2 linked regions of the Homo sapiens genome follow. The protein of the gene in region 2 purifies or fractionates together with the protein of the main gene of each other region. This does not show direct contact. Each region holds a gene or a part of one and is shown on either strand. Other genes may lie near its edges.

What was found.
Region 1: the proteins of TPR (region 2) and NUP205 purify together in Homo sapiens (affinity purification with western blotting; 2 studies listed by BioGRID, with this or other methods). This does not show direct contact.

What each region holds. Positions count from the first base shown.
Region 1 is NC_000007.14:135,616,292-135,632,647, reverse strand, and holds part of NUP205 (nuclear pore complex protein Nup205), read right to left. Parts: intron 15,994-16,356; coding exon 15,922-15,993; intron 15,559-15,921; coding exon 15,401-15,558; intron 15,047-15,400; coding exon 14,966-15,046; intron 14,237-14,965; coding exon 14,045-14,236; intron 13,226-14,044; coding exon 12,958-13,225; intron 12,859-12,957; coding exon 12,760-12,858; intron 9,872-12,759; coding exon 9,723-9,871; intron 7,485-9,722; coding exon 7,293-7,484; intron 6,409-7,292; coding exon 6,287-6,408; intron 4,676-6,286; coding exon 4,537-4,675; intron 2,305-4,536; coding exon 2,178-2,304; intron 1-2,177. UniProt on the Homo sapiens protein: Plays a role in the nuclear pore complex (NPC) assembly and/or maintenance. May anchor NUP62 and other nucleoporins, but not NUP153 and TPR, to the NPC.
Region 2 is NC_000001.11:186,351,254-186,360,149, reverse strand, and holds part of TPR (nucleoprotein TPR), read left to right. Parts: intron 1-153; coding exon 154-351; intron 352-1,499; coding exon 1,500-1,607; intron 1,608-2,526; coding exon 2,527-2,753; intron 2,754-3,700; coding exon 3,701-3,864; intron 3,865-4,381; coding exon 4,382-4,515; intron 4,516-4,591; coding exon 4,592-4,740; intron 4,741-6,299; coding exon 6,300-6,462; intron 6,463-8,039; coding exon 8,040-8,174; intron 8,175-8,679; coding exon 8,680-8,820; intron 8,821-8,896.

The sequences.
Region 1 (16,356 bases), on a different chromosome or scaffold from region 2:
TGGGATCTCCTTGGAAGAAGCACAGGCTCCAAGTAACTCAGCTGGCACTGTACTCAGCCCTGGCCAACTCTCAACGTCTCTCAACCCAGAGGGCTCAGCCACCGAGACAGCCCAGACAAAAAAAATTATTGGGGATTATAGGGTGGATTCAGAGGTTGCCTCAGACATCTCCAAAGCAACATAAAAATGGAGGTAGTGTAGCCTCGTAGTTACATATATAGATTCAAAAGACGTACTGCCTGGGAAACTCTATACTATGCAGTGTTATCTGTGTGACTTTGGACAAGTTAACCTCCCTGTGCCTCAGCCTCCTCAGCTGTAAAATGTGGATAATGACAGTTCTACCTCATAAGACTGCTGTGTCTTCCAATCAATTAACATGTCAAGTATTTAAAACAGTACCTGGCACATACATGCTTAATAAATGCCAGCTACTATCATTTATATTACATATTCTAAGCAAAAGAAAATCATAATCGGCCGTCCTGTCATTAAAGAACAAAGACAACCTTCAGACATTCTTAGAGAATTTCAGGAATATGAGACAGCATGCTTTTTCTTGAGGGAAGGAACCTCAGTACAAATTAAAAATACCAAGAGATAGGCCGGGCGCGGTGGCTCAAGCCTGCAATCCCAGCACTTTGGGAGGCCGAGGCGGGCAGATTACAAGGTCAGGAGATCAAGACCTGGCTAACACGGTGAAACCCCGTCTCTACTAAAAATACAAAAAATTAGCCAGGCGTGGTGGCGGGCGCCTGTAGTCCCAGCTGCTCGGGAGGCTGAGGCAGGAGAATGGCGTGAATCGGGGAGGCGGAGCTTGCAGTGAGCCGAGATCGCGCCACTGCACTCTAGCCTGGGCGACAGAGCAAGACTCCGTCTCAAAAAAAAAAAGAAAGAAAGAAAGAAAGAAAAAAAAAAATACCAAGAGATAAATCAAAAGAAAGAACTCGTGAATGGTGACGCCATGGTGGGGAACACAACTGGTGTTTTGCAGTGAATCCATGTAAATATACAACTAAAACTAAGTAGCTGAGGATATTATGGTTGCATAACAGATGTAAATGTTACAAAACCTGACAAGGTTAAAATGATATAAGCAAACATCATCTGAGGGTGGAAGAGGAAGTGTAAAAGAAGTCATCATTTCATCTTTCCCATCAGGGAGTTAACTGATTCAAAATTTACATGTAGTAAAGAAATTATAAGGGGGGAAAGTAACCAAAGTATCTTAATAATGTTTCATAATGTTTTTCCTTACTCGCAGTGATCTTTTAAAAGGTGACATACTCTAGTAGTAAAGAAACATTTGTCTGGAATTTGGCAATTCCTTTCGTTTCTCTTCAATTAGATTTTTGTCTGTGTTCATGTAAAATTCACATGTATACCTATGTAACAAACCTGAATGTTGTGCACATGTACCCTAGAGCTTAAAGTATAATAAAAAAATAAATAAATTCATGTAAAATTAAATATTTGTTTTTTAAAACAGCATGTAAAAGGTCATCCTATTCTCATTAGTTGCCTCTGTATGTCTCTGTTGCTTTCTTTCTCTCTCTCCCCCTCCCTTTCTCATATGTACGTACACATAAAGCAATGTTTGAAAATTTATCAAATGTCAACATTTGGTAATTTCTAGGTGGTGAGATTTTGAGTGTTAGTTATCTCCTTTTGAATATTTTTATAATAAGCCTATATCTTAAAAAAAAAAAACAAAACAAAACAGAGACGGAGTCTTGTTCTGTTGCCCAGACTGGATTGCAGTGGCATAATCTTGGCTGACTGCAGTCTCAACCTTCCCAACTCAAGTAATCCTCCTACCTCAACCTCCCAAGTAGCCAGGACCACAGGTGAATGCCCCAACACCCAGCTAATTTTTAAAATTTTTTGGTAGAGACAGGGTGTCTCTATGTTGCCCAGGCTGGTCTTGAACCCTTGGCCTCAAGCAATCATCCTGCCTCAGCCTTTCAAAGTGATGAGATCACAGGCATGAGCCACCACACCCAGCCAAGCATGTATCATTTTATAAACATAAACTTATTACATAAATAAAGGCTCTGTTAGCAGTACCAATTTCAAATAAGTCATATATAGCTGCAAAGTAACAAAAAAACTCATTCTATTAATTTATGTCAGTCTTTAAAGAATTATTAAAAATCCTTTCAACATAATCAACTCACCAGGAAGTGCTGCTTTACTTATAATTCCTGTCAGCAGAGCCAATTCCTGCAAAGACCCAGCACTAACATCCTGACAGCGCAGAATTGCTTGTATGGTATCAGAATGTGAAATAAGAAACTGCAATACCTAAGCCATTGAAAAGGAAGAGGAATAGAAAAAACAGGTAGAAGTAGAAAATTATATATAAATGCATAATTCATTTTATAAATAATGTTGAAGGAAGTAACCTTCAACTTTACCATAATACTCAGTAATACAATACTCAGCCTCACAATAAGTGAGGATGAGTAACAGATAAGCAATTGTTTTCTGCACTCACATATTTATCTCTTCAGGAAGTAAACATTTAAAATTCACAAGACTAAAGGATTATTTTAAAGCTTATAAGTTAATACATTTGGAGACTACTGTAGAAGAATATAACTCAGAACTACTGTATGAAAACTATTATCTGACCCCTATTTTCTTTATTGTTTGGCCAAATGAACTAGAGTAAGAATGTAATATAAATGGGTATAAAAATGACTAGTGAATTCAAGAAGCTGTTCTATGAAACAGTAACTAGCATGACATGGGGAAATCACATAAAAGCTTTTGTCTAATTCTTTTTTTAAAAAAATTCATTTTTATTATAATAGAGATAGGAACCAGGCATGGTGGCTCACGCCTGTAATCCCAGCACTTTGGGAGGCTGAGGCGGGTATCACCTGAGGTCAGGAGTTTGAGACCAGCCTGGCCAACATGGTGAAATGCCATCTCTACTAAAAATACAAAAATTAGTCAGATGCAGTGGTGCACACCTGTAATTCCAGCTGCTCAGGAGGCTGAGGCACAAGAATCACTTGAACCTGGGAGGTGGAGGTTGCAGTGAGCTGGAATCGTGCCACTGCACTCCAGCCTGGGTGACGAAGTGAGACTCTGTCTCAAAAAAAAAAAAAAAGAGAGACAGAGAGAGAGACAGAGAGAGAGAGAGAGAGAGAGAGAGAGAGAGAGAGAGAGATAGGGTCTCACTATGTTGCCCAGGCTGGGCTCAAACTCCTGGCTAAAGTGATCCTCCCACCTTGGCTTCCCAAAGTGCTGGGATTACAGGCATGGGCCACCACACCTGGCCATAACTCTCCTTTTGATGCGGTTAAAAAAAGGAGATATAAATCCTGACCTCCCAGCTCTACCCTTCCACTTTGGCATTTTATAATGTACACTCATGGAGTCCTCTTTCAGTATTTTCACTTAGGAATATCTCAACTAGCTTACAAACATTTTAAAGGCAGACTATATGCCAAAACAAGCCAAGGATGTGAATCACTCAGAATTGTGATCATTTTTGTTTTTTAATAAAGATTCCTAGCCTAAGCTTATAATGTCTGGTCACAGAACTCAGTCATCTGTGCTTCTCTAAGAGGCTCCTCAGGTGATTCTGCTTCAGTCAATACAAGATTGGTGTTAGGGAACCAGTGTCTTATATCATAATGTCCCACTTCTACTAAAAAATCTTAATCTCAATCTAGGGGAAGAAAGGCAAAGTCTCTGAGTTTTAAAAAGTACTAACTTGAAGACCACATAGGCCTAAAAGAAGTAGGACGTCAACCCAGATTGCTATGATATAAAATAAGGTGCCACTTTAGAACAGCAGCATCTACCTTGGTGAGATGGCCTAAGGCCTGATGGTAGAGAAAGCAGAAAAAATTACCAGAAATCAAAGTGTTTTAGGACACAGTTCCAAAATACAATAAAGCAATACAAGGTTGTAGATTCATGATAAGCCTAATCAATCAGTGAAAGGCTAAATTACATATAATATTAATTTTTAAAAAAATGTGTGTTGGAATGTTAGTGTTTCACTGAAAAGTAATCAAAATAAAACTAATTTCTGGTATTTAAAAAAATTTTGACAGCAAAATCACTCATTTAAATTATTTCATTCTCTATCATATATAAATGCAGTATTATCATCTGTCAGTCTCCCGAAGTGCTGGGATTACAGGCGTGAGCCACCATGCCCAGCCTGCAAGGCCTAGCATAGCCCTCTCTCAATAGATACCTGGTTAAATTACACTTTAGAAGCCAGCTTACTCCTATCACAATAACTGCTTTCTTTTATAGAAGAACAAATTTCAATCTCTTGTTTCCTGTCTTATGATTCTATTAATTAGCTACAGTGTTTCATTCAAACAACAGTATAAAAATGGACCAATGTAGTTAAGAACAAAGTACAGGGGCCTCTTTTCTCTACCCTGCTCTGCCACAAACATTAGGACTAACGTAAATTCACTTAAGCATTCTATGTGTGTAAGGTTTCTGTACTTGTAAAATGAGGATTTTGCTCTAGACAATATCTAAACAAAGGGTTCACCTTACCTGCCCTGCTGCCTGCAAGTGCTGGGCCATACTAGATGTGAGGATGACCTGGCACAGCTGGAGAGCTGGGAGGAGAATCTGGCGGTAGCGATCCACTGGGGTAGGGATGAACATTGGAGGGTCTCTCATGCCAAACATGCTTATTTCAACCAAACAAGGAGAAAACATTCCAAGAATTAAGGTATACTCTCGGCAATTCCTTAACACTGATATGGCAAATAAATCAGAGCCGGCTGATTAAGATGTGAATCAACTAGTGAGTACTCTGCATCCCATATATACATCCGCGGTCCAGAGAAAGATGTGTCTTCCTAAACTCATAGCTTAGTTAGTAAAAACAGTTATTTGAATTCTGAAAAATCTTATCGAGGAAAACCTATGTAATTTGACAAGATAATGCTTGAAACTTCCAAAACATTTTTATTCTTCTCTAAAGCTTCCTTGGGCCATATAGGCTGTTAAGTAAGAAACAGATTTAAAAAGCTACTTTCCCTAAAATTCTCTCTCCTCTACCCAAGCCAAAAATCCACTATGCTGCCCATTGTATAGGGTGAGTACCACTTACCCAAAATGCTTGGTACCAGCAGTGTTGCAGATTTTTTTGGATTTTGAAATATCTGCATTATACATACTTACTGGTTGAGCACCTCTAATCTGAAAATCCAAAATCCAAATTGCTCCAATGGGCATTTCCTTTGAGCATCATATTGGCACTCAGAAAGTTTGAGATTTAGCAGCACTGCAGATTTCAGATTTTCAGATTAGAGAAGCTCAATCTGTATAAAAATAAAACAAGATTTAAGAGTCAAAATGAGGCTGTAAAATCACTTAACCTTTCAGAGTAGGTCTCAGAACATCGTATTAATAAGCTAATATTTATTGTTAATGTTTATATTTAAATTTTTAGACCAAAAAAATGGCTGCCTATTGAGGGGGAACGAAAGCAGAATAAGAAAATAAGAGACAGGCTTTGCACAGACAAGTGATAATAGCATGCCATGAACTAAAGAGTATTTAACTCAACCCACTTTACCTAAGGTGAAAGTAATAACTCTCATGTTTGAAACTTTAGACCGCAATACTAAAATAAATGTTTTTCCCTGGAGGTAAAACAGTTCTGTAGTTAAGCCTTAAAAATCCAAACATTCAAGTTGCTAATAGATCCTTTTAAAACAATTACTAAACTCAAACTAAGTATTATTTACTTCTAGGAAGGTATGCTATCTACCTAACAATGCTGCAGTCATGTAAACAAAAAAGAAAATCAAATCAAATTTTCCACATTCAAATCGAATGTGAAACTAAGAAATCAGCTGAAAAGCTTGAAACTTGAAAACAATTCCATTTGAAGCTTTTGAATTAGCAAGCAGTAAGCAAAATATTGAAATCAGAAAAAATATATATATAATCTGAAATTCTATTCAAATCATCCGGAACAGGAAATCCATAACAAATTATAATTTTACTACAACTCTTTAAAAGATAGTGTAACTGCAAACAAGTATTTCAATTGAACATAATAATAACATTGGGCAAGTACACATTTACTAAATTCTCTCCCACTCCTACCTACTTTTTCCCTAGTAGCAACTTCCATTTATTAGTAAATGACAGGGGCACAGTATGACCAAAAAAACCCACACCAAGATGAAAGAGAATTGCTAAGCGGCAAAATTATGTTTGGAATTTTTTCTTCCCTTAATAATCCTTTACTGGGAGTTTAACCAAATTAATCTATACAGACACTTACCTCTGCGGGTCCGTTTCTGGGCGCATGTCATAGACTTGGCATTGAGCTAGTCTCACAATCACCCCTGATCTTAGCAGCTCTAATGCACCCTGCTGTATCTTTGCCACTCTTGTGAGAAATGCCTGAGGAGTTACAAGAGAAAAATCATCAGTGCTGAAATCATGTCCAAGGGCCTCAGAGAAAAGTGCAACACTTTGATGGCAAATTTCTCATCCTTAGTTATCACTGAAGAGAAATCTGGGCTAGTGACAGGTTACATTATACCGCTTTCTTCCTAGGATTTTCATGAGGACTCAGTGTTCAACATATCTAAAGCGCCCACAGACAGTAGCTTGCATGATTCAAGTATTCGTTTACAGTGTGGGTCCTGTTATTATCATGTGGGCCCATGGAGGGCAAGGAATTTTGTCTGTTTTGCTAACAGCTGTGTCTCTAGTACCTAGTGCCATGCCTGCCGTTTTGCAGGTATTTAATAAATACCTGTTAAATAAATGAAGGAGGAAAAAGGAGTAAATGAAGAATCTAAAATTTCAGTGCTTCTATTATCGTAACATTTGTGATCCTTTTAACTAGGAGGAAAAAGAAATTAAAACAGATTTGCAGGCAAAGAAACAATGAATTATATACTATATTGAAAATGCTGTGTTTAGAATAGAACTAGCATATCTACATGGAAATTTTCAATAGGCAACTACTATAGTCTAAATTGTATTGTGAGAGGACAATTTTGCTCTGTCCTCACGGAGCACTGGCTGTCATATTGCCATCATGAGCAACCTGAGTGAGTGAGGGAAGCAGCAGTCCCATTATCCAGCTATCCCTTTGAGGATCATTTCACTCATCTTTTGCACACTAGGAAGATTCCAAAGTTTAAAACTCCTTAAAAAAGGATTCCAGCTTATGATAGAAATATTCAGAATGTATGCCACATTAATTTTCTTTAATACATCTATAGCCAAGAGAAAACGACTTCTTGATCTAACATCAAATGTCTAGAAAGCCTTACCATTTTAGATTCATAAGTATAAAGTGCTTTTAAAAGGGGAGGCTGTGGGGTGAGTAAGCTCTGCAAAGTACGGTCATCTTCTACCAAGCTGTCTACGAGGACCTTCAAGTAGCCACTGTTAGAAAGATACAAAAGCCACTGCTGCTGTTTATCCACGGAGACAATTCTATCAAGTAGAGCCAGGGCCAGCATCTGAAGGAAGAATAAATTAAAGTCCAAAACATGTAGATGCTACCAAAATCAACAACAGTAACTGAATTTATCTGACATCAGATATGAAATATGAAGAATGTTTTTCATAAAGAGAATGTTACTTGCAACAAAATTTCCTTTTTATTTTTTTTTGAGAAGTTAAAAACTATGGCTCCAGAACCTCAATTTATCAATAAAGGAAAGCTCTCAGGTAAAGATGTATTTCCAAAACAAAACCTAACACGTTAAACTAGTGGCATTAGATGTATTTTAGTAGACTCTAACATTGCTTGTTAGAGAAAAGAAATTTTTTTAACAGCTGTTTTTTCTCACTGTGAAGTTTTATAATGCTCATTACAGAAAACACAGAAAAATAATAACTAGGTTGGGCACAGTGGCTCACCCCTGTATCCCAACACTTAGGGAGGCAGAGGCAGGTGGAGCACTTGTCAGGAATCCGAGACAAGCCTGGCCATTAAAAAAATTAGGCCGGGAGCGGTGGCTCACGCCTGTAATCCCAGCATTTTGGGAGGCCAAGGCGGGTGGATCACGAGGTCAGGAGTTCAAGACCAACCTGGCCAGGATGGTGAAACTCCATCTCTACTACAAATACAAAAAAAATTAGCTGGGCGTGGTGGTGGGCACCTGTAATCTGAGCTACTCGGAAGGCTGAGGCAAAGAATCACTTGAACCTGGGAGGCAGAGGTTGCAGTGAGCCGAGATCGTGCCACTGCACTCCAGCCTGGGTGACAAAGCGAGACTCTGTCTCAAAAAAAATAAAAATAAAAATAAAAATTACCCCAGCATGGTGGTGCATGCCTGTAATCCCAGCTACTCGGGAGGCTGAGGCAGGAGAATTGCTTGAACCTGGGAGGCAGAGGTTGCAGTGAGCCGAGATCATGCCACTGCACTCTAGTCTGGGCAACAGAGCAAGACTCTGTCTCAATAAAAAGAAAAAAGAAAAAAAAAGTAATAACTACACAATCTGATAAATACAGTTCATCCATTTTGGTCTGTCTCCTACCAGTATTTTTTCTATGCATACAAATATTTTAAAATTTTTAAAACATAACTTAAAAGGTGGCCGGGTGTGGTGGCTCATGCCTGTAACCCCAGCACTTTGGGAGGCCGAGGCGGGAGGATCACGAGGTCAGGAGATCGAGACCATCCTGGCTAACATGGTGAAACCCCGTCTCTACTAAAACTACAAAAAATTAGCCAGGCGTAGTGGCGGGCGCCTGTAGTTCCAGCTACTTGGGAGGCTGAGGCAGGAGAATGGCGTGAACTCGGGAGGCGGAGCTTGCAGTGAGCCGAGATTGCGCCACTACACTCTAGCCGGGGCGACAGAGCGAGACTCCATCTCAAAAACAAACAAACAAACAAACAAAGAAACGTAACTAAAAGGTTATGCCAGTTTATTTTTTAAAATCCTATTTCCTATGGTCTTCAAAAACATGATTTAATTGCTACATAATTTTGCTACATAATTTTCCATTAAGAAGAAGTTATCTTCTCACTGCATCATTACCAGTGTGCCACCATACTGTACAAGAAATATAAATACAAATTCTCCACAAAGCAATTAGGCAGACAAAGATCTATTCAGTACAAGGCAATTTATTCAGCATTCTCTTAACCAAAGATCTTTATTAAGCAGCGTTTCTGTTGTTTCTACCAGTCAACCTCAAAATTAGCAAGAAGATAATTCTGAAAGGCAATTCTGAATTAAGATTCTAACAAAATTAAACACAACATATGAATAAATAAAACAGAAGTCTCAAATTATAGCAAATAAGAAAATACAGTATATTATAAAAAATGATTCTTAATATGTACCATACATTATTAAAAGTTGAATCAATTTATTTTATTTTATTTTTTGCAGCAGGGTCTCACTCTGCAGCCCAGGCTGGAGTGAAGTGCCTCGATCACAGCTCACCGCAAGCAACCTCTGCCTCCTGGGCTCATGCAATTTTCCCACCTCAGCCTCCCAAGTAACTGGGACTACAGGTGCATGCCACCATGGCTGGCTAATTTTTTGTATTTTTTGTAGAGACGGGGTTTCACCATGTTGCCCAGGCTAGTCTCAAACTCCTATACTCAAGAAATCCACCCACCTTGGCCTTCGAAAGCACTGAGATTACAGGCATGAGGCACCACACCCAGCCGTGAATCAGTTTATACCTTAATAAGTCAAAATACTTATTCAATTATAATACTAAATAAGAGTTGCTTTACCCTTCCAATCTCATGACCATCACAAGCATCTCGACAGACCACTTCCATGAGGGCGGCGCCATAACTTTCAATAATGGCTATGTTTTCTCGCTGTAATTTGCTAAATACATCTTCAGGGGCTGTCAGCCTTTCCCACATGGTTTTCTTGGCTAAAAGGATTAAAACAGAAAAAAACACTCCAGTAAAAAGCAGTGTAATAACTGAGTAATTATACCTCACATGCTAGGTATGAGCTAAGGAAGAAAAAAAAAAAACGCAACAAAAAAATCCTTCCATCACTGCTTGTACACAAAGGCCCACTGACCGGTGGGTCCAAGCAGGTTAACTCTAATAACACAATGCACCTATTTCATGCATGTTTCATAACACTAAGATAATAATTGTACCTGGAAAAGGATAAATCATTCTGAAAGAGATCAAAATGAATTACAAGACTCCATGAGAACCAACGTCCTGTATTTATCCTGCTCATCAGTCTTTTTTTTTTTCCTTCTTTTTTTTTTTGAGACAGAGCCTGGCTCTGTCTCCAGGCTGGAGTGCAGTGGCATGATCTTGGCTCACTGCAGCCTCCACCTCCCAGGTTCAAGCGATTCTCCTGCCTCAGCCTCCCCAGTAGCTGGGACTACAGGTGCATGCCACCATGCCCAGCTAATTTTTGTATTTTTAGTACAGATGGGGTTTCATCATGTTGGCCAGGATGGTCTTGATCTCCTGACCTCGTGATCTGCCTGCCTTGGCCTCCCAAAGTGCTGGGATTACAGGTGTGAGCCACCGTGCCCAGCCGCTAATCAATCTTTTATCTTTTATTGAGATCTTTTAAAATTGCCAGGCGTGGTGGCTCACACCTGTAATCCTAGCACTTTGGGAGGCCGAGGCGGTGGATCACTTGAGGACAGGAGTTCAAAACCAGCCTGGCCAACATGGTGAAACCCCGTCTCTACTAAAAATACAAAAAATTAGTGGGGCGTGGTGGTGCACACCTATAATCCCAGTTACTGGGGAGGCTGAGGCAGGAGAATCACTTGAACCCAGGAGGTGGAGGTTGCAGTGAGCTGAGATCGCACCGCTGTACTCCAGCTTGGGCTACAGAGTGAAGCTCTGTCTCAAAAAACAAAAGAAAAGAAAAGAAAATTTAGCTAGAAAGGATCAGGTACAATGTAGACAAAAATTTGCCTCCAAAAAAATCAGATATTTTTATTCTTTTTTTTAGTTGAAATACTTATTAAAAATAAAAGCACACCTATTATAAAAATAAAAGCACAACCATTATACAATGATTAGGAACAGTATGATCATACATTTTATGTAAGACCCACAAACATACTCTTATGTGAGACTCTTTAAAAATTTCACAAGTACATTAAATAAAGCAATAACTTGTATTGGAAACTAATCTCATTTTTTCCAACTGCTACATAGCAGCAGTTTTTAAATTGGCATCTTGATGACTTCTTATAAAAAGCCTATTGTAGAGCCCCACCTAGTGGTTAAGTGGTGACTTGGCCAATTCAACTAAATGGAATGTTAAGAAAAACACACACACAAAAGAAAAATGTGGGAGGTGCTGAGTGGAGAAATCCCATTACTATCTCTTTTCTTAAAAGAAGCTCATGTTTGCTTAAAAAACTTCTCTAAACTATTCTGTTATTTTTCCTCATCTTACAAATATTCTCATGCATTATTTATGTGGGTGCTACATGCCTATAAATCTACCATTTGGCTATTACTACCTTATAGGGTACTATGTATGGCATAAAATACAACCACCATAAGGATAATGAGATCAAGTCAACCTTACGTACACAGTGGTTTTTAACAGTGTATACAAAATAACACTCACAAAGGTGAAGAGCCCAAAGAAAATCCATTATCAGAAGGTGCTCTGACAACTTCTTAACAAATGGCAGAATAACTCTGAATAACTTGATTGAACATCAAATGTCTATAAAGTATATAAAGCATTATATACTGATGTGTTGAACACTTAATAACATTTTCATGTCTTAAGATTAGTTTCAATTAAAAATGCTAACTTTTTAGAAAGCAGCATTTAGCAATATTTTAAATGTGCCTAACTTTTGACCAAGAAATTCCACTTCTTGGAATTTATCCAAACAAAACCTCACTAGTACAAAAAGATACATGTATACTATTGATGAGTTTATACTGGAGAAGGTCATTCATTTGAATCTTTTTAAAATAAAAGTACATACTTTTACACATGGAAATTCCACCATTAAGCAGTATCCTTTTTGAGAAATATAGGCATATAAAAAAAGTTGATGTAGCATTTTTGTAATAAAAATTTAGAAACAATTGAAATGCCTGTGAATAAGGAAAATGGCAGATAAGTGTTTCATCCATATCATGGAATAACAAAGACTTTTGTGTTTCTTTTTGAGACAGAGTTTCACTCTTGTTGCCCAGGCTGGAGGGCAGTGGCGCAATCTGGGAAACCTCTGCCTCCTGGGTTCAAGCGATTCTCCTGCTTCAGCCTCCTGAGTAGCTGGGATTACAGATGCCTGCCACCATGGCTGCTAATTTTCTGATTTTTAGTAGAGATGGGGTTTCACCATATTGGCCAAGCTGGTCTCGAACTCCTGACCTCAGGTGATCCACAGGCCTCGGCCTCCCAAAGTGCTAGGATTACAGGCGTGAGCCACCATGCCAGGCCGAGATATTTTAAAAGAATCAACTAGATAAGTACTCTGATGTAGCACAAAGGAAAGAAAGACATTGGACCATTCTATGTAGAGCACACTGTTCAGTCGGACTTGAGGCAAGTGAGGGAGTTACAGAAGTATATAAAGCTAAAGTATTATTTGAAGGTTATCTTAAAAGTAGTACTCATGTACTACTTCATAATTCTTAAAAACTAAACATTCTTCCTCAACTTTTGAGTAAATGCTTTAAAAATGACACTAACACTCATTTTTTACAGTTGTGATTAGTCAAAAGATGGAGAAGTGATTTTTTTTTTCAATTTAAAGTAACCATCTCCCAATCCAGAAAAGATTAGGAATTGATCTCATTCTACCTGCTTCTAAGGTGTCTGGTTCATCAGGTCTCTGGGCAATCTGTAAGTAATAAAGCAGAGAGCCATACAAGTGAGTCCTCACTCGTTGGAATCCACCACCTAGGGAGATTAGGAAGATGTCAAATGAAAATCTTTTCTCAATTAAAGTTAAAACAAATACAAAAGATAGAATTTATAGACAATTTAAATGAAAAAAACCTGTCTTCAAAATGAAGTCTAACAGTTTCTTCAATATGATGTAAAGTGAAGAATCTCCAATAGAAGCAAAACCCACTAATGGGTTCTCTTCAGGAGGAGGTGAGGTGAAGCAACTATCAAGCATAAAAGCGTAATGGGCCTCTGCTGGTCCCAAGACTGATGTTTCCTTCTGTTCAGTGAGGACGGCCTGGCTTAGGTGAGCAGTCAGTGTGAACACTGCCCCGGCGACCACAGGCATTAACTCTTGCGCAGCTTCATCATCCAGTATCTTAAAGGACAAGGGCAAATTAGAGTGAGAATCCTGCTTTCAGCTATAATCATTAACAAATTTCATAGCTTTTTTTTTTTGAAGACAGGGTCTCGCTCTGTCACCGAGGCTGGAGTGCAGTAGCATAATCTCAGCTCACTTCAGCCTTGACCTCCTGGGCTCAGGAGGTCTTCCCACCTCAGCCTCCCGCAACTGTGACTACAGGTGCACACCATCATGCTCGTAGAGATGGAATCTCACTATGTTGCCCAGGTTGGTCTCAAACTCCTGGGCTCCAGTGATCCTCCCACCTTGGCCTCTCAAAGTTCTGGGATTGCAGGCATGAATCACTGCACACAGCCCATTAACAAGTTTTATATACATTTAGCTTGTCAACTATGGTAACAATATAAGAATGGAATACAGAAATTAGTCAAGAAAGAAAGAAAGAAAGAAAGGAATCTAATATATACAGAGAAATTTAAACATGATGCTAGGTAATGGGTGTTCTTAACCAGAAGGGATTCCTATCAGAATTCCCTAGGGAGGTTTTCTTTTTGAAATTCACATAAATGGTCTCACCACTACATTCAGTAGGTCTGGGGTGGGCTCTGTCCATGTGAATTTTTACAAAGCTCCCGAGATAACTCAGACACACACTCTGGTTGAGAGCCACTACTGTACAGAATTAATCCCTTTCTCAAGGAAAGTCTTAACGTTGGTATTGCACAATTCTATTTTACTCCCAATCGAAAATGGAAAACAATTAGGATGCCAAAATATATTTGTTTAAATGATACATTCGTTCAGCAGTATAAAGTATTTTAGGAAGTACGTCACCTTATCATGCACATCTTGTAAAATATCACGAATAATCAGTTGTCGATCCTCTGCCTGAATGAGGTCCTGGGGACAAGCTGTCAGTATAATTTCTACTAGTTGCCTCCACGACTCCAGAGCATGACGTTTTGCATGAAGACACTGCAGCAATTTATTTCTTCCTACCACATACTGAAGTACAGTGCTGATTTCCTAAAGCCACAGGAATTGAATCACAAGGTTAAACAGGCAAATAAGATCAGTTATCTGTCAGTTACTCAGAAAATATTTATTTGGAAACCTACTACATGCATGCCAGGAAGCAGGTATCTTTTCATATTATTTCAGTAGCCAGGGCTATAAAAAATATTAACATATAAGGTGTGTATGTGTGTGTATGTGCATGAAAGGTAGGGGACAGAAGTGGCATAGATAAATATGTATTTTTTGACACCATCTTCTTTCTCCTTGTACCTGTCTACTTATACTTGCTTACTCTAGAGCACTAGAATTATCTAAACTCCAAGTTCAATGGCATGTTTCTCTGACATCTCTTTTATTTCTTTGCCTCTTGCTTTGGCCTGGCCGGCTGTATCTCCATTCATGTGGTTCTTCCCACCTGACCTCTTATCTGTAACTTTCCACTTGTGATGACAAATGACCCTCCTCTCTCACTGATGGGGACCAAGTGAAGTCTAATACGAAATATGGTCAGGTTGCAAATCCTTAACTAGCCTAGCAGAAAAGGTGTTATTTATTTTGGCATACCAGATAGTTCAGTTTATAAAAGTTATAAAATCAAAAGTGAAAGACTCCCTAAATGTTTAATTTTTAGGCAGCTTACTAATTAGCAAACTACATGTCAATATACTATTTTAGTCTTTTCACCAGCAACCTAAGTAGTTAGAAGTTTGAAACGAACACATACTCAATAGAGCTTACCTCCATTAGTAGAGGTCTCTGTCCTATGGCTGCCATACCCTGAAGGGCATTTACTTCAGCTACAAGAACCCTATGAAGAAGCTGGATAATTAGGAAAAGAAAGAAAAATAAGACATTTCAGACACTGGTAGAACAGTAACACCTAGCAATTACCATAAACTGCCCTAAAGGGAAAGGTGTCAGATACCTTTATATATAATCTAACAGGAGCACTGTCCAATTTCCAGACCAAAATATTAAGTATCCCTTTTCAAGAAGTTAGGTGATATATTAAGTTTTATTTCAGGGATATTTTACAAAAATCACAGTCCTTCCTATAAACTACTAAACCAATGTCTCTATCAGAAAGAAAACCTATATGGTTCTATTTGTTTCTGATGACTTAAAGTCTGAGCCACTTGACACTGCAGATATGTACTTTAAAGCAATCCTCACCTTGACATTGCAGACTGTCTGTCCCCGTAAATTCTTGTGTTCACAGTTAGCAATAACTTGTTCAATCTGGGCCCGATCAAAAAAATCCAACTGCAAAGGCTCAGGGATCTCCTGACTGAAGTCAATCGAGTCAAGAATATTTAGAATTTTTCGACGTACTAGAAATAATAAAAAGTAATTTGATTTTACTTGGGACATTGAAAAGAAAGGCAAGCCATCATATTCAGTTGATTTTCAAAGACAGTGCTATTTTCAGAAAGAGCATAAAATAGTCAAGAAACTGAAAACTGTATTGGAATCTAAATTTGATTTTATTTCTGATACATCCATTAACAAAAATATTTTCTTTCCTTTTGTATAATCCTATTATAAAAAAAATTTTCAGGTGGCAATTAATCCTTTATATAACTTTTCTATACCAGTTCAGAGTTTGGAGGCACAGGCATAATAATCCCTTGAAGTTTTTTTTTTTTTAATATATGTCTATAAAATAAATTTATTACAAATTCAAAGGGCATTACCTTTTGTAGCAGTGTCAAAGTGAAGGAACCCAGAAACAGACCTGTTTTCATCTTCTATTCCTCCTTCACCATCTGTTGGAATATCAATAATATTGAATCAGAAAAAGAAGAACATACTCTTAAAACTATTTATTTGGAAATAACAAACACAAGGTATCTTATTTCTAGGTCATTGTTTCTACATCAAAGAGCCCTGTGCAAATGGATAATTAAAATGTAAAGATTGATGAGGATTTACTACCAACATTAATCTAATTATTTCTGTCCCTATGGAATCCACTGCACAATTGTAAAGAGAATAATCAGATTCTCAAAAATGGCAAGACCCAATCATGCCAATGAGATGATTTTAAAAGTTTATGCTTAATTTGCATGAATAATACATACTGAAATAGCTTAGGTCATGCTGGCTCAGTATGACAAACTCCACTGACA
Region 2 (8,896 bases):
GAAAGGCTTTCTTTGGTTCCTAGTGCTGTGTAACTAACATAGTAAACATTGCCATTTTGTGTTAGTGTTAAAGAATGTTTATTATGAAACTAGATCAACTAAATATTTGCGTTGTTATGGTTAGATTTGAAACAACCCTTTGTCTACTTTCAGCTCTATAATGCTTATGTGGAAACTCAGGATCAGTTGCTTTTGGAGAAACTAGAGAACAAAAGAATTAATAAGTACCTAGATGAAATAGTGAAAGAAGTGGAAGCCAAAGCACCAATTTTGAAACGCCAGCGTGAGGAATATGAACGTGCACAGAAAGCTGTAGCAAGTTTATCTGTTAAGCTTGAACAAGCTATGAAGGTTGGTTCCATTCCTAAAATTTAGCCGTGGTAACAATACAAATGAGAAATGATTTACTAGGTATTTTTTTTTCTTAAGGTGATTGAGTCAGAAAAATCTAAATACGATTTTCAATAAACACATTTTGAAACTTATTAAACACTGCTGATCTCAAAACGTCATACCTTTATTTAGCAATTTTTATGTATTTCAATTTTTATATAAAATTGTGAAAGCATTTTAACCTTTTTTTAATGCATTTACTATGTTTTCCTTAGGATTCTCAACTAGAGAATAATAGCCAAATCTCCTAAAACTGCTCTTCAAATTAAAATAATCTCTGTGTAATAAAACTCTCCTATTTGCCATAATCATTCTTTATCAGACAGTTGTAATAGCCTGCCTAGAAATAATAATATTGTTTGACCATAGGTAGAACTCCTTTTTTATACCATTTCACAATTTGGCGTGTCTCTATATGCATTATTTTGTTATTGCTCATTTGCTTATTAGAAGTGTTAATGAAATTCATAAAGATTTTTTCCTTTTAAGAGATACTGATGGAAAAAGAGGTTATACTCTGAATGTTTTGCCTTATGGTACAACTATTAACATTACTGAGGGAAATTGTCAAGATTTCTTGAACAAGTTTTATGGAGGAAATTCAGTTAAATGAATTTATATCTACTCTTCTAAACTGATAAATTGTTTCCCTTTTGTTGGAAAAGAATATAAATATATCCCTATTTCAAAATTAAATCTCTGTTGCTGTTATAATTTAGAAGTCAGTTTAAATCCAAGTACTTTATTATATCAGCTGGTTTTTTTCTTCTTCATCAAGTGAAGTCTAGCAGTCCCGCCTGCCTGAGAATATTGACTTTTTTACCAGCAGTGTAGTTTGCAAGAGAGCCCTTGGATCCAATTAGATCTTCCTTGAATTTTTCTCTCTGTTGAAAGTGAGGGTTTTACCTGAAGCTTGTTATTGTCTGAATGAGAAATAACATATTCAAATTTATACAAAACTTCTTTTTTAGTGGCTACAATATTATGTAGGATTTTATTTAGTGTATAAGTTGATTACTGGTGGTGTTTGAGTATTGTATGTCTTTATTACTTGTATAAATCCTAGAAGGAAGTACAAAATTTTCACTTGAATTTACATTTTAAAGGAGATTCAGCGATTGCAGGAGGACACTGATAAAGCCAACAAGCAATCATCTGTACTTGAGAGAGATAATCGAAGAATGGAAATACAAGTAAAAGATCTTTCACAACAGGTTAGAATTTTTTTGTTTGTTTTCCTACTTTTAAAAACCTGACTGCCCAGTAATCTTTGAATCTGTTTGAAGGTACCTAAGATAGAACTACCATGTATGAAATTCTAATTAATTAGGAATAGTACTCGAGCAGAGTTGCACCCCCATTGTTTCTTTTCATAGCCCCTCCCTTTTTTCAAATGTTTGATAAATTTTTAAATTATACGTGTTGGTTGTAATAAATGAAGAAATAATTCAAAGATAAATAAAAGCTTTCTCCAATTTCTACCCCTCTACCCTCTGAAGTCCCAAAGTGTAGCTAAGTTAACAGACAGTTGTGTATTTTTTTCACATCCTTCTCTGTATGTGTATATACATGAGCATATATAAACATATGTAAGAATTATTTGATTTTACTGAAGTAAGACTGGACTGTATGCATTACTCTGACACTTAACAAGCAAATCAATAAATTAATGTCTCATTCATATATTTTACCCTAATTTGTGTGTGTGTACATCCACGCAATGCACAAATGTAAAAATTTCACATGAATGGCATTATATATATGCTTTTTGTTTAAATGTCTATTTTTCATGCTCTGCCCTATCATATATACAAAAGCACACACAAAAAAATAGATATTTGTGGGTTTTATTTGATCACTGTTTTACAAAACTGGAGCCATGTTTTGGGAATTGTAATTTGGCTACTTTGTAATAAGTAATAGCCTTCAATACATACTTAAAAGTAATTTTATTCTATTAAAATTTGATTGTTTAGATTTTAATATCCAAGGATGCTTTATTTTTAAAGATAATTTGAGGCAGTACAAGTTGAAGGTTTTATAAGTAATGTTTTAATTTGAAAACTTTCATTCTAAACTTGTCCAGAATTGTAACTAATACTATTTTATAACATATTAAAACTTTGTTTTTAGATTAGAGTGCTTTTGATGGAACTTGAAGAAGCAAGGGGTAACCACGTAATTCGTGATGAGGAAGTAAGCTCTGCTGATATAAGTAGTTCATCTGAGGTAATATCACAGCATCTAGTATCTTACAGAAATATTGAAGAGCTTCAACAACAAAATCAACGTCTCTTAGTGGCCCTTAGAGAGCTTGGGGAAACCAGAGAAAGAGAAGAACAAGAAACAACTTCATCCAAGTAAGTAGTCACATACCTCAGCTTGTTGAGCAAACATTTATGAAAACCTCAGCTAGGCTCAGTGTCTCATGCCTGTAATCCCAACGTTTTGGGAGGCCTAAATGGGGTATCATTTGAGCCCAGGAGGTCGAGACCAGCCTGGACGACATAGTGAGACCATGTCTCAAAAAAAAGTAAAAAATTAGCTGGGTGTGGTGGCACATGTCTATAGTCCCAGCTACTCAGGAGACAGGCTGAGGTGGGAGGATCACTTGAGTCCAGGAGTTTGAGGCTGCAGTGAAGCATGATCATGCACCACACTCTAAGTGGGACGACAGGGTAAGACCCTGTTGCCCGCAAAAAAAATCTATGTGTTCCTAACAGTGCTAGATACTTGGGATATAGTGATATAGGGAGGAAAGAATTGAGCAACAATACCAAACAAAAAATTTCTACTCCAAGACCTCAGGTTATGGGTAAGACAGATGTAATAAATAGATAATAAAATAGGCAAGTAGACAATTTGCATTCACTGTGATTAGTGCCTATCTGTGGGATCATAGCGGTAGAGGACTTGTCCTAGATTTCAGGGAGCAGACCGGCTTCATGGAGAACCTGGAGAACCTATGTAAGAATTAGTCAGAGGTTTTTTCAAAATACATGTATAATGTCTTCTAGAAGAGGAAGAATGGCTAAGAAAGCAAGAAGACTAGAGTTTGGAGTGAGTGGAACTGATTTAATTTTTACAAACAAATTTTTCAGATTGCATTGGTAAGTATAAGTACCTGAGTCCTGTGTGGTGGGGATTTAAAAAGTAGTTCATAAAATACTCAGCATGAAAAAAAATAATGAGAGAGACAAAAATGGTATGATGAATGGTAGGCAAAGATGCTTGGTTAATTACAGTAGAAATTACAATCAGTTAACTCTCAGTTCAGTCCTGTGAATTAGGCCGACTTTTTCTACAGAATCACTGAGCTTCAGCTCAAACTTGAGAGTGCCCTTACTGAACTAGAACAACTCCGCAAATCACGACAGCATCAAATGCAGCTTGTTGATTCCATAGTTCGTCAGCGTGATATGTACCGTATTTTATTGTCACAAACAACAGGAGTTGCCATTCCATTACATGGTAGGTTTTTATAAAGTTATTTTAAGGAATAATTTAGAAATGTATATTAAGGGATTAATTTTGCAACATAAGCAATAGCCACTCTAATGATGGTAGCTTCAAATTTGACTACCATATATAATTGCTTATAACATCCCATCAACTGTAAAACATACCATTATTTTATGTATTGCTAAAAAGAAATGCTTTCTATTGTTGAAAAAGGTGCATTTCAGAATCAATGAATTACAGTATTTATTTTGGTTATGTTTTAATGACCAAAACAGATATGTTTTAATAAAACATAAATATGGATTATGTTTTAACCCATAAATACTGAATTATCTCTAATAACCATCAAAAAATCTTAATACATTGTTTAGTAGATTCCTTATTTAAAAACTCCTATAATCTTATTGTTTCATTTCAATAAGTTTAGCTTGTTTATTTGATAATAGTGTATTTGCAAAGAAGCATTAGATTAAAGCTGATTTATGAAAGCCAACAAAGCATTTTATTAGTCTTTACTTTCCTGAAGCTTCAAGCTTAGATGATGTTTCTCTTGCATCAACTCCAAAACGTCCAAGTACATCACAGACTGTTTCCACTCCTGCTCCAGTACCTGTTATTGAATCAACAGAGGCTATAGAGGCTAAGGCTGCCCTTAAACAGGTAAAGATCACACCTTTGTCCTGGGTTAGGTTTTTAGAGAACACAGTGTTACCTTCTCATAATCTCCAATATTTAGTTGCAGGAAATTTTTGAGAACTACAAAAAAGAAAAAGCAGAAAATGAAAAAATACAAAATGAGCAGCTTGAGAAACTTCAAGAACAAGTTACAGATTTGCGATCACAAAATACCAAAATTTCTACCCAGCTAGATTTTGCTTCTAAACGGTAAGTTTTCTTTTGTTTCAAATTAATTAAGTCTAAATGTTATACTTTACAATTCAAATCATTTAAATTCAAGAGCTAATTTGCAATAGTGTTGCTTTTTTTGTGAACTGTGTTCCAGAATGAGAACCTCTGGTAGTTCATTTTTTTCATATTGATTAATGATTCTCTAGGCAGTGCTAAGGGTTTAGCTTGTTTGATAAGTTGAAGCCAGGCGCAGCAGCTCACGCCTGTAATCCCAGCACTTTGGGAAGCCGAGGCAGGTGGGTCATTTGAGGGCAGGAATTCAAGACCAGCCTGGCCACCATGGTGAAACCCCATCTCTACTAAAAATACAAAAATTAGCTGAGCGGCAGTGTTGCATGCTTGTAATCCCAGCTACTCAGGAGGCTAAGGCAGGAGAATCACTTGAGCCCAGGAGGCAGTGGTTGCGGTGAGCCAAGATTGGGGCCACTGCACTCCAGTCTGGGCAAGAGAGTGAGATTCTGTCTCAAAAAAATAAAATAAAATAAAAATAAGTTGAAGTTCATGTGAGGAATGTTGGTAGTTTACCTTCCTAAGATTAAAGGACTTGTTTCGGTAGGACTTAATTCTTTTAAAAATGCACCAGATGATGAGAGAAATGAGAGCAAATTTTATTCCACCTTTTCTATTCTAGGTAGAAGAGAAGCAAGTGCTATGTAGTTTTAGGAGAATTAATTTTCTTGGTCACATCCAAAGAAATAATAAATATTTCATGATTATTTGTTATTAAATTCATTGAATGCTTGTTAGTTTAGTTTGTTAGGACAATATTTATTTTTATATAGTACATGATAAAACTGTTTCTGTTTTATAGCAGGCAGGATATATTGCAGGCAGTTACCCCTATACATCTAATAGTTCAGCAACCCCAATTAAAGCACTTCTTTTTTCTCTGTTGATACCTCTAGCCAGCCATTATGTCAGCTTTCAAGCACATAAGAAAATAAAACTGAGGATTATAGAAGAAAAAAGGATTAGCAAAAATCCATCACTAACCCTGTATAATAACTTAATTTGTATACTGCATTGTAGTGGGTGTCTGGTGTTATCAATATTGCATTGTCATTACTTTAAATATAATTGATTTTTTAAAAATAAGATTAAAAAGTTACTTAGCATGAAATACTTTGCTTACTTAGAACTTGAACCACTACATTTGGAATTGGGAAAAAAGAATGAAGGTTTTACCTTATTACACAAGCCACTTCTTCATAAATCATAAAATTAACCCCTTTCCCATTTAGAAAAAAAAAAGTGCAGCTTGCTGCCAGCGCTCATTTAATTTTACATAAGCATGCTGTTTGAGGTTGAGGCAAATCTGACAGATTTTCAGTGTGAAAATAAAATATAAAAACTGTTCCTGGAGTTATTTCTAAGCAGAATTCAACTTAACAGAAATATGTATGATGTTACATTAGGATTAGAGACAATATTCTCAGGGCATTTGGGGAAATGGGTTAAGCTATTGTGAAATTTCTTCAAGGGATTAAGCTAGGATATCATTTCAGTTACTTGTAGAATTACTTTTTTCATACCAGTTATGAAATGCTGCAAGATAATGTTGAAGGATATCGTCGAGAAATAACATCACTTCATGAGAGAAATCAGAAACTCACTGCCACAACTCAAAAGCAAGAACAGATTATCAATACGATGACTCAAGATTTGAGAGGAGCAAATGAGAAGCTAGCTGTCGCAGAAGTGAGTCCAATATCCCTTGTCCAACTTGCATTATAAGTTGCATTTGACATTTCTTTAGTTTTTACTTTGAATTTTACTCACTGATAGGACTTAGGTATTTAAGAAGTTTGGAGGTTACACCAAGTAATTAATACATAGTTTGCAAATAGCCAGTGTGCGTTAGTGGGGTGATTGTTTCTATTAAGATAGAAGAGGGAAAGGAATTTGTTTTTCTGCTGGGCTAAGATATACTCGCAAGTCTTGCATTTCAAAATAAATTTGTAGGTCAGTGTTTGGTTCTAACAAAGACGTTTTTTTTTTTGGTTTTTTTTTTCTTGAGACAGAGTCTCACTCTGTCGCCCAGGCTGGAGTGCAGTGGCACGATCTTGGCTCACTGCAAGCTCCGCCTCCCGGGTTTACGCCATTCTCCTGCCTCAACCTCCTGAGTAGCTGGGACTACAGGTGCCCGCCACCACACCTGGCTAATGTTTTGTATTTTTAGTAGAGATGGGGTTTCACTGTGTTAGCCAGGATGGTCTCGATCTACTGACCTCGTGATTTGCCCGCCTTAGCCTCCCAAAGTGCTGGGATTACAGGCATGAGCCACAGTGCCTGGCCAGACGAATATGTTATTCATTCTTGCTCATCTGTAATAAAAAGCAATATAAAAATTACATTGCATTGAATTTATATTTCTGAATTTTAACTTGAATATAAATGTCCATTTGAAATTATTACTTTTAACTAAATACTTAGTTTTGTGATGATAAATTTTTTATATAGTTTTCTTTGTTATTCAGTTATCTCTTCTGTCTTTGATCATTACTTGTAAGCTAGGTATAGTTGTCCCCCATTTTACCTGTGTAAAACAGACTCAAGAGCTAATGTATAATTTGCCTATTTTGGGACAGTCATGAGAGATGGGTTGGTTAGGACTTGAACCCATGTCTTATAATGCTCTTATAAGGCTGTATTCTTTATTTTTATCTTGCTCCAACTCCATTGTGAGGAGTGGGCAGCAGCACTTTTTCAAACTGGTAGAGTGAATTTTATCATTGATCATTTATATGAATCTGTGTGTAAATATGAGTACTTGTGTGTAAATATGAGTACTTTGAGCTTTCAAAACACTCTCCCTGGTCCCCTTGAGACTCAGACTCTTGGGGTTGAGGGGAGGGAGAAACTTTAAATAGATCAATCATCACTTTTAAACAGGTACTTTGAAACCGGCTTGGATTCTAAAAGTTACATAATTTAATAGTAGTCAGGTATGAATGATTACAGCAGTCATGCAATTCTGCTTTCTTCTTCTCACATATTAAATTTTTCTTGCTGTTATTTTTTAAACTGTGGATTGTTAGAGCAAGGAACCATAAGTATTTGTAATTGAAAGATTTTTTCATTGATGATCCCCAATAATTTTTGCTTCGTATTTTAGCACATGAAACTGTTTTGTATTTCCTTATACAATGAGGAGATATAGTCCCTAAGAGCATTAAAAAAAAGTAGTGATGTATGAATCATTTTAATTTTATAATCTTAATACACTTGACACCATGTTTTTCAGCATTTTTTATTTCATTTCTACTTATGTTTAGGTAAGAGCAGAAAATTTGAAGAAGGAAAAGGAAATGCTTAAATTGTCTGAAGTTCGTCTTTCTCAGCAAAGAGAGTCTTTGTTAGCTGAACAAAGGGGGCAAAACTTACTGCTAACTAATCTGCAAACAATTCAGGTAACCAAATAAAAAGCCTATGTAGAAAAAATGTATAAAAGTTAAATTTAGATTTTTTTTATCCTCTCAATTTCCTTAATTAGAAAATTTATCCATCACTTTTGTCATCCATTATGATCATTGAATTTTGCAGTTTATTAAGACATTTAAATATTTTAAATAAAATATTGAAAGAGAATTGATTGAAACCATACATTGGTAAGTCCTCAGGTATATTTACAGTGTCCTGTGCAGTTTTACTATTTATAAGATTAATTCTTTGGTTTTTATTTTCTTTAAAACTTTGGGAAATCTGAATGACGATTATAATACATTCCATCTCTTTCCTGTATAATAGATGTTTTAATATAAAAAATACCAGAATACTTTCTTGATAAATACTGTAGATTTTAGCTGCTTCATGTAGAAATGGGTTGTAATATTGTAATTCTTTCTTGCCTTCAATTTTTATTTTTTTGTATTGCCTTTTTCTTAAGCATAACCAAAAATCTTTTCTTTGCTTTAGGGAATACTGGAGCGATCTGAAACAGAAACCAAACAAAGGCTTAGTAGCCAGATAGAAAAACTGGAACATGAGATCTCTCATCTAAAGAAGAAGTTGGAAAATGAGGTGGAACAAAGGCATACACTTACTAGAAATCTAGATGTGAGTCCATCAGAGTTCTGAATTTCTGTAGGGTGTTTATGTTCAGTAATTAATCTGGTGTGTGGACAGTCTGCCA